Linked DNA regions of Homo sapiens. The protein of the gene in region 1 purifies or fractionates together with the protein of each later gene. This does not show direct contact. Each region holds a gene or a part of one and is shown on either strand. Other genes may lie near its edges.

Evidence for each region. The genes of interacting proteins can lie anywhere in the genome.
Region 2: the proteins of HMG20B (region 1) and GSE1 purify together in Homo sapiens (affinity purification with mass spectrometry; 4 studies listed by BioGRID and IntAct, with this or other methods). This does not show direct contact.

Annotation. Positions count from the first base shown.
Region 1 is NC_000019.10:3,568,269-3,575,955, reverse strand, and holds the start of HMG20B (SWI/SNF-related matrix-associated actin-dependent regulator of chromatin subfamily E member 1-related), read right to left. Parts: upstream 3,013-7,687; 5' UTR 2,962-3,012; exon of another isoform or gene 2,665-2,961; 5' UTR 2,647-2,664; coding exon 2,609-2,646; exon of another isoform or gene 2,265-2,608; coding exon 2,156-2,264; exon of another isoform or gene 2,139-2,155; intron 1,574-2,138; coding exon 1,370-1,573; intron 417-1,369; coding exon 296-416; intron 1-295. UniProt on the Homo sapiens protein: Required for correct progression through G2 phase of the cell cycle and entry into mitosis. Required for RCOR1/CoREST mediated repression of neuronal specific gene promoters.
Region 2 is NC_000016.10:85,608,937-85,616,321, reverse strand, and holds the start of GSE1 (genetic suppressor element 1), read right to left. Parts: upstream 3,001-7,385; 5' UTR 2,931-3,000; coding exon 2,924-2,930; exon of another isoform or gene 2,494-2,923; intron 792-2,493; exon of another isoform or gene 768-791; intron 749-767; exon of another isoform or gene 1-748.

The DNA.
Region 1 (7,687 bases):
TTTTTTTTTTTTGAGACGGAGTCTCGCCCTGTCGCCCTGGCTAGAGTGCAATGGCGCAATCTTGGCTCACTGCAACCTCCACCTCCCGGGTTCAAGCAATTCTCCTGCCTCAGCCTCCCGAGTAGCTGGGATTACAGGCACCCGCCACCACGCCCAGGTAATTTTTGTATTTTTAGTAGAGGGGGAGGGTTTCACTATGTTGGCCAGGCTGGTCTGACCTCAGGTGATACACCCGCCTCGGCCTCCCAAAGTGCTGGGATGACAGGCGTGAGCCACCGCGCCCGACCCCTCCCACCTTTCTTGATCTTCTTCTCCTGGATCTTCTCCGTGCACATCTTATAGGCTTCAGACTGCTGGTACGCCCGCAGCTCCTTCATGTACTGCTGCTTCTCTCTCTCGGCCTCATCCAGGTACCGCTGGGGGGCAGCACCAGAAGGCTTGAAGCAGGGGAAGCCTCCAACGCCAGGATCCAGTCTTTATCACTCTGCTTTCACAGCACCCTCCCCTCTCCTGAACCTTCTATAGCTCCCTATTCCCTCCAGGCAGACAGAACCGGCTCCTCAGCCTGTTGCTCAGGGACCTCCGAGCTCCCACCTCACTTCCCATGCCCCGGACTCTTCCCCACCTCCAGCCCTGACAAACCACTCCCGGACGCCAGAGTCATGGGCAGGAACCCAACCTCCAGCGTATGCGGATGCCTGGACTCCCTCCCGCACCCGTTTCTCTCTTTGAAATCTCACTTACAGGGATGCAAAGCAGTGATGGCTTTTGTTACATTTCCGTGATGTTTTTGCAATTTTTAAACTAACAGGATATGAAAATCGGGTTTCGCAAAAAATCCAGGCCCCATCCTGACTTCTTAGACATATCTTTGTTGGTCATCCAGTTTTCAATCTGTCTTGCCTCTTGCTAGCCGCGCCCCCAAAAGCTGGTCATGGGCTGGCCACGGTGGCTAACGCCTTTAATATCAATACTTTGGGAGGCTGAGGTGGGCGGATCATTTGAGGTCAAGAGTTCGAGACCAGCCTGGCCAACATGGCGAAACCCCATTTCTACTAAAAATACAAAAATTAGCAGGGCATGGTAGCACGCGCCTGTAATCCCAGCTACCTGAGAGGCTGAGACAGGAGAATTGCTTGAAGCCGGGAGGCGGAGGTTGCAGTGAGCTGAGATCACGCCACTGCACTCCAGCCTGGGCAACAGAGCAAGACTCCATCTCACAAAAAAAAAAAAAAAAAAAGTTGGTTATGGGTGGGCATTTCTCCAGGAAGAAGGAAAAACCCTGCACGTGGAATCCTTTGGGGGTCGGGGCTACTGGGGGGTAGTCCGTGGACCCCGCCAGCCCTGCTCGGCGCCCCGCCCCGCCCACCTGCTTTTCCGTTGGCTGCAGCTTGCTCCACTCGGCGCCCAGCATCTTGGTGATCTCGGGAAAGGGCAGATCCGGGTGGCGCGTGCGGATCTGCTCGCGCCGCTCGTTCAGGAAGCGCACGTAGCCCGTGACCGGTGCCTTGGGCCCATTCGGCAGAATCTTCTTCCGCTTCTTGCCCTTGGGCCAGCCGCGTTTCTTCACCGGCTGCAGAACCGGGCTGCGTCGTTGGGAGGGGGGCCTGGCGTACTGGGGCAGGGCTCAGAGGGGCATGGGCGGGGCCTAACGCGTATGGGCGGGGATGGGGGCGGGGCCTAGCTGGGAGGAAGAACCCGGAAAAGATGGAGGTAGGGCCCGGTCAGCAGTCGGGACACGGTGGGTTAGAGGGATCCCTGGCCAGGGGTGAGGGGATCTGAGGAACTATGGGCCGAGGTTTGAGTACAGGGTTGGCGTTGACTTCGGTTGTGGGCGTGGCCTCTGCTTGGTGGGCGTGGTTTTCTGCTGGAGAACGGGCCCACAGGACCAAGGGGAGGGTGCCGCCCCCAAGGAGTGGAAGTGGGCGGGACCTTAGAGTGGGCAGAGCTGGCATTGTGCGGTGGGCGGGGCCTGGACTTAGAGTGGCAGAGGACCTGTCAGGGGCGTGGCAGCTGGCACGGGGCGGGGTCTCAGCTTCCAGAGGAAAATGGGCTGTGGGCGGAGCCACAAGCAATTCAAATCCAGCCTGGGGCGGGGCTTCGAGGCTGGGGCGGGAGCCCGGGGCCTCCCCCAGCTCAGCGCAGGGACTCTCACCTCCTCCTCGTGGGACCCCTTCTCGCCCGCGCGTGGACCCTCGCCGCGCTCTTGCTTGACAGTCACCACGAAGCCCCCATGCTGGCCCGGAGCCTTGCCGCCCGCCGGCCTGGAGCCAAGGATACCGCGGTCAGCCCCGTCCCAAGAATCTCCCCTCCCCCAAAAGCCCACCCCAGGGCGTTTTGACCCCCGACGGCGGGGCTGCAGCGAGAGTGCATGAGCCCGAGGAGGCAGGGTCTGATGGGGTCAGTATCCGGGGAAGGTGGGACAAGCGGGGCTCCTGGGAGGGACTGGAGGCCGAGGTGGGGGGTGCAGAATTGGGTGGAGGGAGAAGCCCCCTGACCCAGGTGGGGGAGTCAAGACTCCGGCGGGAGGGACTGGGTCAGGGGTTCAGGAGCTAGGGCTGCAGCCGGGAAAGTAGCGAGGGCGTGGGGAGGGGATCAGTGCACTCACGCGGCGGCCGCGCCGGGCTGCTTGGGGCCGTGGGACATGGCCGCTCCGGGCCGGACCTGGAACACGGACGCGGGCGGAGGTGAGTAGCGCCCGGGCTGCCCGATGGCAGACCGCGAACTGGGGTACCCCGCGATGGAGAGCCCCGGGATGCCGGGCCCGGAGCGCTGGGGGGGCCGGATCCAGGGGCAGGGAAGTCCTCGAGGGCGGGCGCCCCAAGAATCCTTTGTTGGGCGATTGCCCCCCCCGGGAGGCCTGGGCCGGTTTCCCCCGGGCCAGGAAAGACCCCGGCCCGGCCCTGGGACCCCTGCACCCCCGCCCCCTCTCAGGGCCCGGAGTTCCGCGGCTGTTTTCACCTCCAAAGAAACTTTCCCGGACCTCCCGACTGCGCGACGCTCCAACCAACCGCCCGCAGCCCGCCCCCGTCGGCCGCCCCGCCCCTCCCCGCCCCCGGCATGCTAATGAAGGCCTCGGCGAACGGTCCCATTGGGTGAGACCTTCCCCCCGGGCGAGCCCATGCAGATACCGATCGGCGCGCCGGCCGGCGATTGGTTGGGGAGGTTGCTGAGTCGCGTGGGAGGTTGGTAAGGAAGGCTGCGGGCGGTGCGTCAAGTTCGGCTGCGCTCGGCCGCGCTCGGGACCAATCGGGAGCGAGTGGCGGACTTGCCGGGCGGAGCCTCTTAAAGGGCCAGTAGGAGAGGCGCGGACTCCTCCTCCCTCTCTGAAGGCAAGACTCCCAGCCGCTGCCGGATGGGGCGACCGGCGGATCCGGGTCGGGCCCCGCCCCGGTTGCCATGGGGACGGAGGTGGGTTGCTAGGGTTAAGGTCCTGCGAGGCAGTCCCCAGCCCTAGGCAAGGTGGGACCTGTTCTTAACATCCTGCAAAACCTAGCGGAGAAGTTTCCTATGTATTTACTCAGTTTAGAGCCCCCGACGTCCGGATCCGAGGGCTTCTGGCCATAGGGGCTGCTCTCCCTCTGGGGTCTCGGCTTTCCCCCCTGTGCAACGGGGACATCACACGATATCCAGGACAGAGAGACTGGGATGCTGGGAAGCTGAGAACTGGGTGTGGGTCAGGCAGGGGGTGGGGTTGGGAGCTGGGCTGGAAGTGTTTGGGGAAAGATGGTGGTGAAGGGAGATGGCAAGGACTTCGTGAGGATGGGTCAGGAGGCTCCGCTCTGGTGGATCAGGGACCTCCCAGCAGCAGTCTAGGCTTCTGGCCCAAGTTGGGGCTGCTCACCTCCTCTTTTGTTTTTGAGACGGAGTCTCACCCTGTCGTCCAGGGTGGAGTGCAGTGGCTGGATCTCGGCTCACTGCAACCTCTGCCTCCCGGGTTCAAGCAATTCTCTGCCTCACCCTCCCGAGTAGCTGGGATTACACGCGCCTGCCACCACGCCCGGCTAATTTTTGTATTTTTAGTAGAGACAGGGTTTCACCATCTTGGCCAGGCTGGTCTTGAACTCCTGACCTCGTGATCCACCCGCCTCGGCCTCCCAAAGTGGTGGGATTACAGACGTGAGCCCCCACGCCCGGCCCACTTCCTCTTCCTCAAGTCCGCTTAAATGTCACTTGCTCAGCCAGGCCTTCTCTGATTTTTTTTTTGCCTCCATAAGTCGGCTTCTCCCTGTGGCCTGCCTGTTTGGTTCACAGCATTGCCCATGGTGGATGCTCAATACACATTCATTGAATCCTTCAGATGTCTAGGAGGCAGATGCAGCTGCTTTGGAAAACAGACTGGCATTTCCTCAAAGGGTTAAATAAATGTGGAATCACCATGCAATTCAGCAGTTCACTCCTAGGAATATACTCCAGACAACTGAAAACAGGTGTTCAAACAAAAGCGTGTACACAAGCGTCGGTAGCAGCGTGATTCATAATAGCCAAAAAGTGAAAACAACTCAAACGTCTGCTAATGATGCATGGATCGATGACGGGATATATCCTTACAACAGAATATTATCCGCCATGGGCCGGGCGCAGTGGCTCACGCCTGTAATCCCAGCACTTTGGGAGGCAGGCGGATCACTTGAGGTCAGGAGTTCGAGACCAGCCTGGCCAACATGGTGAAACTCCAGTTCTATTAAAAATACAAAAACTAGCCAGGCGTGGTGGTGCACGCCTGTAATCCCAGCTACATGGGAGGCTGAGGCAGGAGGATCCCATGAACTGGGAGGCAGAGGTTGCAGTGAGCCAAGATTGTGCCACTGCACTCCAGCCTGGGCAACAGAGCAAGACTACGTCTCAAAAAAAAAAAAAAAGAATATTATCAGCCATAAAAAAAAGGAGCGAGTCTCTGACACAAGTCACAGCATGGATGTACCTAGAAGACATCACACTCAGTGAGAGACGCCAGACACAAAGGTCACACAGTGTGTGATCAGAATGTTCAGGAAAGGCCCATCCACAGAGACAGGAGGGGGACGTGTGGGTGCCAGTGGGTGGGGAATGACCACTGAGAGGGATGCGGTTTTCATTTGGGTGATGAAAGTATTTTACAATTTGATTTCAGTGATGGCTGCGTGACTCTGGAAATATATTACAAACCATGGAATTGTATGCTCTAAATGGGTGCATTATATGTGAGTTAAGTCTCAATAAGCCCATTGTCCTAAGATGCAGCCCGGGGCTGAGGAAGAGGAGCTGGCCCTGGAATCTGGACGGTTCCACACGCCAGACCTGGCTCTGTTGCTTAATCAGCTCTCTGACCTCCCAGGCCTCCCCTGTGTCTCTCTGCTCACTTAAAAATAGTCTAGGTGAGGCTGGGTGTGGAGCCACCCCTCCCGGCCATAGTCAATAACAATTTAATTGAACATTTATTTTATTTTGTTTATTTATTTTATTTTATTTTATTTTATTTTTTTGAGATGGAGTCTTGCTCTGCCGCCCAGGCTGGAGTGCAGTGGCACCATCTCGGCTCACTGCAACCTCTGCTTCCCGGGTTCAAACGATTCTCCTGCCTCAGCCTCCCAAGTAGCTAGGATTACAGACATCCGCCACCACGCTCGGCTAATTTTTTTTTTTTTTTTTTTTTTAGTAGAGACAGGGTTTCACCATGTTGGCTAGGCTGGTCTTGAACTCCTGACCTCAGGTGGCCGCCCGTCTCGGCCTCCCAAGGTGCTAGATTGCAGGGGTGGGCCACTGCGCCCGGCCTTTTTGTTTGTTTTTTGTCATTTATTACTATGATTTATTTGCCAGTTTTTATAGCATGAAGCCAGGAACAGTATACCAATTTATAATCCTAGAGGTGGAAGCTCTCCATTAAGGATGACTTGCCTTATAATTCTTTGGTTTTCTAATTAATTTTTATTATGCAAATCATGTTCACATCCATTTCACTTGTACAGAATTAAGGAAGTGCAGCTCAGACCTCTTTAATTTCATTACATTTCCTATCGTCAGCTTATTGCTTTTTTTTTTTTTTTTTTTTTTTTTTTGAGACAGAGTCTCGCTCTGTCGTCCAGGCTAGTGTGCAGTGGCGCGATCTCGGCTCACTGCAAGCTTCACCTCCCGGGTTTACACCATTCTCCTGCCTCAGCCTCCCAAGTAGCTGGGACTACAGGTACACGCTGCCACGCCCGGCTAATTTTTTTGTATTTTTTAGTAGAGATGGGGTTTCACCGTGTTAGCCAGGATGGTCTCGATCTCCTGACATTGTGATCCACCCGCCTTGGCCTCCCAAAGTGCTGGGATTACAGTCGTGAGCCACTGTGCCAGGCCTTTTTTTTTTCTTTTTTTTTTTTTTGAGATAGAGTTTCATTCGCCCAGGCTGGAGTGCAGTGGCGTGATCTTTGCTCACTGCAACCTCCGCCTCCCAGGTTCAAGTGATTCTCCTGCCTCAGCCTCCTGAGTAGCCGGGATTACAGGCACGTGCCACCAAACCCAGCTAATGTTTGTATTTTTAGTAGAGACGGGGTTTTGCCATGTTGGCCAGGCAGGTCTTGAACTCCTGACCTCAGATGATCCGCCCACCTTGGCCTCCCAAAGTGCTGAGATTACAGGCGTGAGCCACTGTACCCGGCCGCATCTCTTTTTAAAATTTTTCCTAGCCACACTCACACACACACACACACACACACACACACACACGCACACCACACTGCATTGGTTTGCTAGGTAATAATTACGACAAACTGAGGGGCTTAAACAAGAGAAATTTATTGTTTCACAGTTCTGGAGGCCAGAAGTCCAAGAGGAAGGTGTGGGTAGGGCTGGGGCCTTCTGAGGGCGGGGAGAGAATCTGTCCCTGGCGTCTCCCAGTTTCTGGCATTGGCCAGCAATCCTGGGCTTTTCTTGTCTTGTAGGAGTGACACCCCGATGTCTGCCTGCATCTTCATGTGGGGTTCTCCCTATGTGCGTGTCTGCACCCAAATTTCCTCTTTTGATAAGGACAGCAGTCATACTGCGTCACGGCCCACCCTAATGATGTCATCTTAACTCATTATATCTGCAATGACCTTTTTCCAAATACGGTCACATTCTGAGGCCTTGGGGATTAGGACAGGAACCTGTGCATTCTGTGGGGACATGACTCCACCCACAGCACATGCCTACACACGTACACATGTGCGTATTCCTAATAAAGACGTGGGCTGGGCGCGGTGGCTCACGCCTGTAATGCCAGCACTGTGGGAGGCCGAGGTGGGTGGATCGCTGGAGGTCAGGAATTTGACACCAGCCTGGCCAACATGGAGAAACCCTGTCCCTACTAAAAACACAAAAATTGCCAGGCACGGTGGCTCACACCTGTAATCCCAGCACTTTGGGAGGCTGAGGTGGGAGGATCACGAGGTCCACAGTTCGAGACCAGCCTGGTCAACATGGTGAAACCCCATCTCTACTAAAAATACAAAAATTAGCCGGGCGTGGTGGCGGGCACCTGTAATCCCAGCTACTTGGGAGGCTGAGGTAGGAGAATAGCTTGAACACGGGAGGCAAAGGTTGCAGTGAGCGGAGATCCCGCCACGGCACTCCAGCCTGGGACAGAGCGAGACTCCGTCTCAAAAAAAAAAAAAAAATTTTTTTAACGTGAATATATATTTTTTATTTAGTCATTTTTGCTTACAGTTGAAACTCTAGAGAATCT
Region 2 (7,385 bases), on another chromosome or scaffold:
CCAGAAAAGTGGGAGGCACCAGCTCCTGCCCCTCAGCTCGGGGCTCCGAGCCCAAAGGCCCCCCAGTCCGCCTCCTTCAGAGCAGGGGAGGACAGACAGTACCTGCTCCAGGGGCTCAAGGGGAATTTGGGACTCCAGGGGTTGGAAGGGGGGAATCTCTAGCTCAGAGGTGCAGGACCCCGGTCTGCCACAGAGTGGCGCTGTGCAGACTTGGCTCTTCCTGGGGCCGGCGATGCTGAGCCCACAGGCAGGCTTGGCTTCTGCTCTGAAACCACAAGGCACTCAGATCTGCAGCCCCTGAACTTCCCCCAGAGACAGGGAAGTGACTGCTGGAGGGGAGGGCTCATCGGGGCCATCGGAGGAGGCTTCCTGCTGTGAGCGCGGTGTCCGCCCCACGCCTGGCCCCAAGCCTCAGTTTGCCCCTTGTTCCTACCCCCAGTGTGTACGTTAGGATCAGCTGGGGAGCTCTGACAACCCCCAGACCCGGGTCAGGAACCCAGAGGCTGTGGCTTAACTGGGCTTGGAAAGGCCTGGCCAGCAGCAGTTTTAAAACACCGAGTTTGGAGATGTACAAGCCCCTTTGAACTCTGACACTCCAAGATCCTAAAAACTGTCCCAAACAGCTCAGAGCCTGCGCCACAGTGGACACCTTGTTGCCTTCCTTGTTTTGAGCTCAGCCTCACTGTGCCTAGAACTAGGACTTCCCGACCTCCCTTCCCAAGGCAGGGCTGACCCTAGGTCACCGGAGGCTCCTGGCGGGCTCTCACCAGCTCTGGCCCGGCACCGCCCCCAAGGCTCCAGGAAAGAAAACTCCAAGCGTCAAAACCGTGGTTGGCTCCAGCTTCCCCAGCTTCCCCTCCTGACTTTGGTGTCTGCTGCCAGAGTGACAAAAGCCATCCTCGCACCCGGCCCGCAGGAGATCAGGAACGCTGCCGACACGGGGCTGGCTGTCTCGGAAAGTCTCTTAGGAAGCACCGAGGTCGCTGCTCTCGCAGGCCAGGGCCTCTTCCAGCGCTCCTGAATCTACCTGGGCGGGGCGACTCCCTGCACAGCCGGCGGCCGGGATGACACACTTCGCCGTCGGAGCCTGCGCCCTGGGCCCCTCACCTGTGGCGTGGCGGCTGAGTCAGGCACAGCCTGTGCCTCAGGTTCTGCCGTCCCTGCTGGTGGAGGCGGCCGTAAACACAGGGTGAGCAACACTGAAGTGCCCCAAGCTTAAGCAACACCGAGGGAGGCCAGGGAAGGCTGCTCACCTGGGTTCCCCCTTCCACCCCTGCCGGGAGGCGGGAGCACGGAATCCCAGAGGAGAGGACGAGACGGCCGACCAGGGGGCACATTTCACAACGCCCCCACCAAGACCTTCTCTCTGCCCCTTTGTCCCCCGCCGCCTGGAAATCGGCTTAGGCGGGTTCGCTTCCACCCGGAGTGCGGCTGGGCCTTTTGTTCAGGCGCCTTTTACAAAAGGAGCCCTCTTTCCATTTGGTGGCCCCGCTTTTTGTTTCCAAACCCCAACCTGTGTGGCCGCTACCCCTCAGGCCCCAGATAAGGCACCGCAGCGGGGAGCAAGGGTTTAGTGTGTTTTAAACGCACTTTGTACAAAGGCTAGTTTGTAAGAGCCAAACCGACTCAACTCCGGCTGGCATCCACCGCCCAGCTGGGAACCCGGCAGGTGCTCCCCCACCGCCAGCACGCTGCCCTCGGAACTCAGACGGGCACTGCGGCCAGGCCCCCGGCCCACCACGTGGAAAGGGCGCAGCCTCCACTCCCCCATCTAATGAGGGTGTCGCGGTGTCCCTTCCCCCCATCTGGGAACCCCCTCCCTATGGCCTGCGCCTCGAGTCTCCACCGCACATTTCTAAGTGCCCCCCTGGTCCCCCACCCGGCGCTGGGGAGGGGAGGCGGAAAGCTGGGGGTGGGCGGGCGCAGGGAGGGTGAGCTCCACTCCCGCTCCGCCTCCATGAAGGGAATTTAATTAGCCTGCTAGAGAGGCGGGCGGGCGGCCGAGGAGGTGTCTCTGGTGCTGCAATATAATTGAATCGGCTCCACTCGGTCGGGCCACTCGCCGCCCATCAGCGCGGCCGCAGGGCCCGGGAGGGCTGGGGGCGGGGAGGCGCATCCAGGCGGAGCAGGAAGGGCCGGGGAGGGAAAAAGGCCAGTGCGGGTGGGGGGCGGCGGATGTGCAATCCCTCTCCCACCTCCGAGGCTGGGGCAGCCATCTTCTGCGGGGGGGAGGGGAGGGGCAGGGAGCCGCTCCGCCGGGGGTGGGGGGAGAGAGAGGAGAGAAGCGGCCGAGCCCGGGGCGCGCCCTTCCTCGGGAAGCAGGGCGTGGGGGTCACAAACCCGGCAGGCTGCGGTCCCGCCCTCCCGACCAACTCCCCCGAGACAAGGGGTCGGGGAGGGGGAGGGGAGCAAGACAAGAACCCTAACCGGCGCGGCCCCAGTAGCGAGCACCCCCCCCCCCCACACCCCCGCTTCCTCGGCCGTCGCCAGCACCTGCCGCGGGGGCGCACAGCCACCCCCATTCGCTCCCTCCCGCGTCGCCGCAAAGTTTTCATTCCAGCTCTCCAGCGCCCGCAGCTCTCGGAGACTCCCCCCGCCACCCCCATCCCCCCACTTTACCTGCCCTCTAGCCCGCACGCACTTAAACGCACCCCCCCCATCCCCCGCTGAGCGCACTCCTGAGCCCGGAGCCCCCGAGTCCCCGCCCGCAGCCAGGCCTCCCAGGCTGCGACCCGCGGGCGGAGGAAGGGGGTGGCCTTTGGTCGCCTGCCCGCCCTCCCGGCTCTTATCGCCGCTAACACTCCGGGGAAGTTGCCCGGGAGCCGTTGGCGGCCGCCCCCGCGAAACCCGCGAACTTGCAGGAGGACAGTGCGGTGGGGGGAGGGGGGAGGACCCCGTCCCCGGCCGGGTGCGGCGCGCTCACCTTTCATGCCAGGGCCCCGCAGCTCCACCTCGGCTGATACATGCTGGAGCCACCGTCGCCCAGTGTTTGTCTAAACTGCTTATCTCACCCGGGGCTGCTCGGCGGCGGCAGCTCGGGCCCGCTGGGGAGGTGGAGCTTCCGGGGCCCCGGCCAAGAAACACCTGCTGCTGTCGCCGCCGAGGACACACCCAAACGCAACGCCGCCCACTCCCGGGCCACTGGCTCGCTCCCGGCTCCCTGACCTCAGCCAGCGGGAGGTGTCGGGTTTCAGCCGCAAACACACAGGCGCGCGCGCGCGCACCGACGGGCGCCCGGATCCACCCGCCCAGGCACACGCCCCTCCCCGGCCCGGCCGGCCAGGTGAGCCGGGGACACCAGCGGGGCCGCGGAGGTGCCACCCCCACACTCTCGGGAGCCCCTGGCTGGACTGCTCGGGGGTCCCGGGGACCTTGGTGGCTAAGACCGGCCACTTAACTCTTAAAGTAGTGCAGCACCCTCGCCACGTGAGCGGAGCCCTGTCTCGCAGCTGCGTCCCGGGAACCTAGAACAGTGCCTGACACAGAGCAGGCCCAATAATGGGCGGACGGGTAACTCCGTGTCCTGGAGGCCTTTTGGAGAACAACTTTCTGGGCGCTGGTGGCGCGTGGGGTGGGGGGAGGCGACACAAAACAGACTGTGTACCCAAGCCCCACCCCCCCCATGCCTGACCTTATTACCCCAACTAGAAAAGGCTGAATACTAAGAACTTGGCCTCAAAATTCCATAAGGCACCCCACCCCCCAGTTTTAAGTAACTTTTGGGAAGGCCACAATTGCGGGCCGCTGCGGGGGGTGTTCTTTAAAGAACCCGCGGCCCAGGGGCTGGAGAACCCACGGAGGCGCCGCTTCGCCAGGGGGATCATTAAGTAGCTGGGGTTGCGGTCAGAGGCGAGGTCGCCCGCCTCCAGAAACTGGCACGACCCATTGCGCTTCTGGCCCCAGCGCAGCGCCTCCCCATTCCTGGCACCCCCCACCCTACCTCACCCAGGCACTTGACTGGAATGACTCAGGGAGCGTCCTGAAATTCCTGGGCACCCACAGGCGGCGCGGAGAGGGACTGAAGGCCCCAGCCTTCCCACCCCCCGGCTCCGCCCACCCCGCCCCGCCCCGCCCCGCCCCCACCCCATCGCGGCGGGCGCGTCCCCAGGAAGCTCGGGGTTAAAGGGGCGGGCCTCGGGGGCAGGGGTCGGCGAGCCTCCCCTGCCGCCTTCTGGCGCCCTGGGCTGTAACCCCCCCGGGCGGCTCTGAGGCCCCGGGGTCGCTCCCTCCTCATCCTCTTCCAACACCCCTCTGATCTAGCGCGTCCCTACTTCTGAGCCCTGGGGCAAACCAGCACCCCCTGGGCGGCCGCCCCAGCGCTGCGCTGCGGTGCGGGTTTCGACTTTCAGCCCCCTCGTGCCAGCCCCAAACCTGCCCCGGGACATGCCCGCGCCAGGCTTGGCAGGCGCGCACGCTGCCGTCCCCGCGAGCCCGCCTCCCCCGCCTTCCTCCCTCCCCCTCCCCGCGCCAGCCCGGATTGCGACGGGAGCGAGCGCTGGGCGCCTGCCACCCCCCATCCATCTGTTCCCGATGACGCTGGCGGGCCTAGAGCGTTCGGGGCCCGCGCCAGCGGGGAGCAGAACCAGCCTGTGTGCCCTCCGGGGGGCAGGGTCTGGCGGGCTCCCTCAGGCCCCACGCTCCCCGCTCGACCTCCGACCGAGCGCGCGCCGGGGCCCGGAGGTGGGGGCGCACGCGGGCCGGCCCCCCGCCTTGCACAAGGCTCCGGGCAGACCACAAACGAAAAGGGAAACGGACCGGCGAGGCCGGGTCGGGCCGTTACTGGCTCCTACCTGCGGACGCTGGCCGGCCCTGGCACGGCGCGGGGGTGCTGCTTCCCCGCACGACCCGCCAGCTCACCGGCGGCGCCCCCCTTGCGGCCTTGGCCGGACGCTATAATTTACGCACCACACGGTGGCTCGGCCGCGCGGGCCCGGGTAATTTATACCCGCACTGGCCGGCGGATTCACCCGGCCCCAGGCGGCCAGGGCTGGGAGGGGGAGGGGGAGGGGGAGGGGCGCCTCCACCCCCACTGGGAGTCACGGGCGGGGGGAGGGGAGGATAGGGAGGTGTTAGGAAGGAATGGACGACGACTGGCCCCGAGCCTTAAAAACAAAATTCACCTCCGGGACTGGCCCAACCCCTTTCCCACCTGGATTACAAGCTGCGGGGGGAGGGGAACAGCATGCAAATGAACCTCTCGCACCTGGCCGGGTAGACACCTAGGCCCCACCTCCAGGTCTCTCACCCGGACACGGTGCCACCACCTACTCCCTTCTTCCTTGGAGAGGCCCTTGGGCCAGGGGTGAAGGTGGGGTTAGGTTTCTCCACCTGTTTGAGCAGGACCACGACGGCCAACCACAAAAACGTGTGGAGTGGCCACTGGGAGGTGCATCACTCGGCTTTTTAGAGCCGGCCAATCCCTCCGGCGTATACATCTAGCTCCCCTGGATTGCGAGATGGGTGGTCTGGTCCCGTTTCACAGATGAGGAAGTTGAGGCCCTGAGTTGCTCAAGATCATGTGCACACAGGTGACATGCAAGCTGCGCCCCAAACTGCTCACACCTGGAAGTCACTCCCCTTCCCAACCCAGTAGGCCTAGGGGAGCGAGGCGCTGCCGGACACCCCGGCAACCGCCGGGGGGCAGCAGCGAGCCGCTCTGTGAGTCCTGGCCGGGAAACGCTGGCGGCCACCAGGCGGGCTGGCAAGGGGGAGATGGATGACACTCACTGTCAGTGCGCCCGGCCCCCGGAAATTAGTAATCCGGAGCACGGCCTCCGAGTTTAAGGGTGGGAATTGCTCTCCTGCAGCCGGCGCGCTCCTCGCTAACGAGGTTTGTCGCTTGACTCCTAATTTCCCAGCACTGGGGCTAAGGCTGGCCTCCCTCCATTTCCCTCCAGGCCTGCTCCTCCTCCTCTCTCTTCCTAAGCAGCGCCCTACCCACAGCCCCGCGCCCCCAGATAGTGCGAGCCCTTCCTGGGCACAGCTCTCTTTCCCTGGACCTCCTTCCCACCCTCCACTCCCATTTGCCTGGAAGGAGCTAGGTAGGTGCCAGGGCCAGGCCTACGGAGGCACCTCCCAGAGCAGGACACCTGCCCTGGGGATGCTGCACGCGGTGCTCCTTACCACGGACTGTGCTTTGTGCCAAGGCAACAGGATGCTGGTGCCTGGTGCGCGTTTGCTCACACCCTGAGGCCCCTGCCAAGCTAAACTGTGCCTCCAAGAGCGGAAGGCAGGCTCCCAGCCCCTCACCTGCCTCAGGTACCTGCTTCAGTGACACCTAGGTGCAAACTCTAGCCCTACCTCCACAAGCCCTGGAACCTATTAGACCTGCACCACAAAAGAGATTTAAAATTTAAAAGCTTTCCTAAGGGCATGGTAGCTCACGCCTGTAATCCCAGCACTTTGGGGGGGCCAAGATAGGCATATTGCTTGAGATCAGGAGTTCGAGACCGGCCTGGACAACATGGCAAAACCCTGTCTCTATTAAAAACAAAAAAAAATTAGCCCTGCATGGTGGCGTGTGCCTGTAGTCCCATCTACTTGGGAAAGTGAGGTAGGAGGATCCCTTGAGCCCAGGAGGCAGAGGTCGCAGTGAGCTGAGATTGTGCCACTACACTCTAGCCTGGGCGACAGAGTGAGACCCTGTTTCAAAGGAGGAAAAAAAAAAGAAAGCTTTCCATCTCAGATGAACATGAGACACCTTAAACCTACTCCCTGAGCTCAGGAACTAAGAGGGGTGTCTGGAGACGGGAGTCCTAGGAGGATCCACCAGAAAGAAAGGGACGCCTTGAACCACAGAGGGTGGGCGGTTTTTCACTCAACAAACACACTAAACCCTGGGCTGTGTTTCACACTTGGTTTTCCAGAAACAAAACTGAAAATTCCAGTAAGCCTTCAGCAAGCACCTCAGAGAGGCCAGGGTTAGCTGGGTGTGATGGCACAAGCCTGTGGTCCCAGCTACTCGCGAGACTGAGGCAGGAGGATCATTTGGGCCCAGGAGTCTGAGGCTGAGGTATGATTGTGCCACTGCACTCCAGCTTGAGCCACAGAGCAAGACCTTGTCTTTTTTTGGTTGTTTTTAAAGGTGGGGGCGGCAAGGGACAGACAGCAGAGGGCAGATGCTGACAGAGGGGACACTTCAAGGCAGCAAGGAAATTTGGAAGGCAAGGGGGCAGGATGACAGCACAGACCACCACCACCACTGCCTGGGCATCAACCTGGGCCACGTCAGGTGCTCAGGGGTGCGGGCGCCACCCGTGACTGTCACAACCTCACTAAGTCTGAGCACACGGCCTAGCCCTGGCGGAGGATGGATCCCGGACACGTTCTTTCTGGTTCTTGCTTCTTCTAGGGCTCAGCAGGACAGCACACAGCCTAACCCAAGG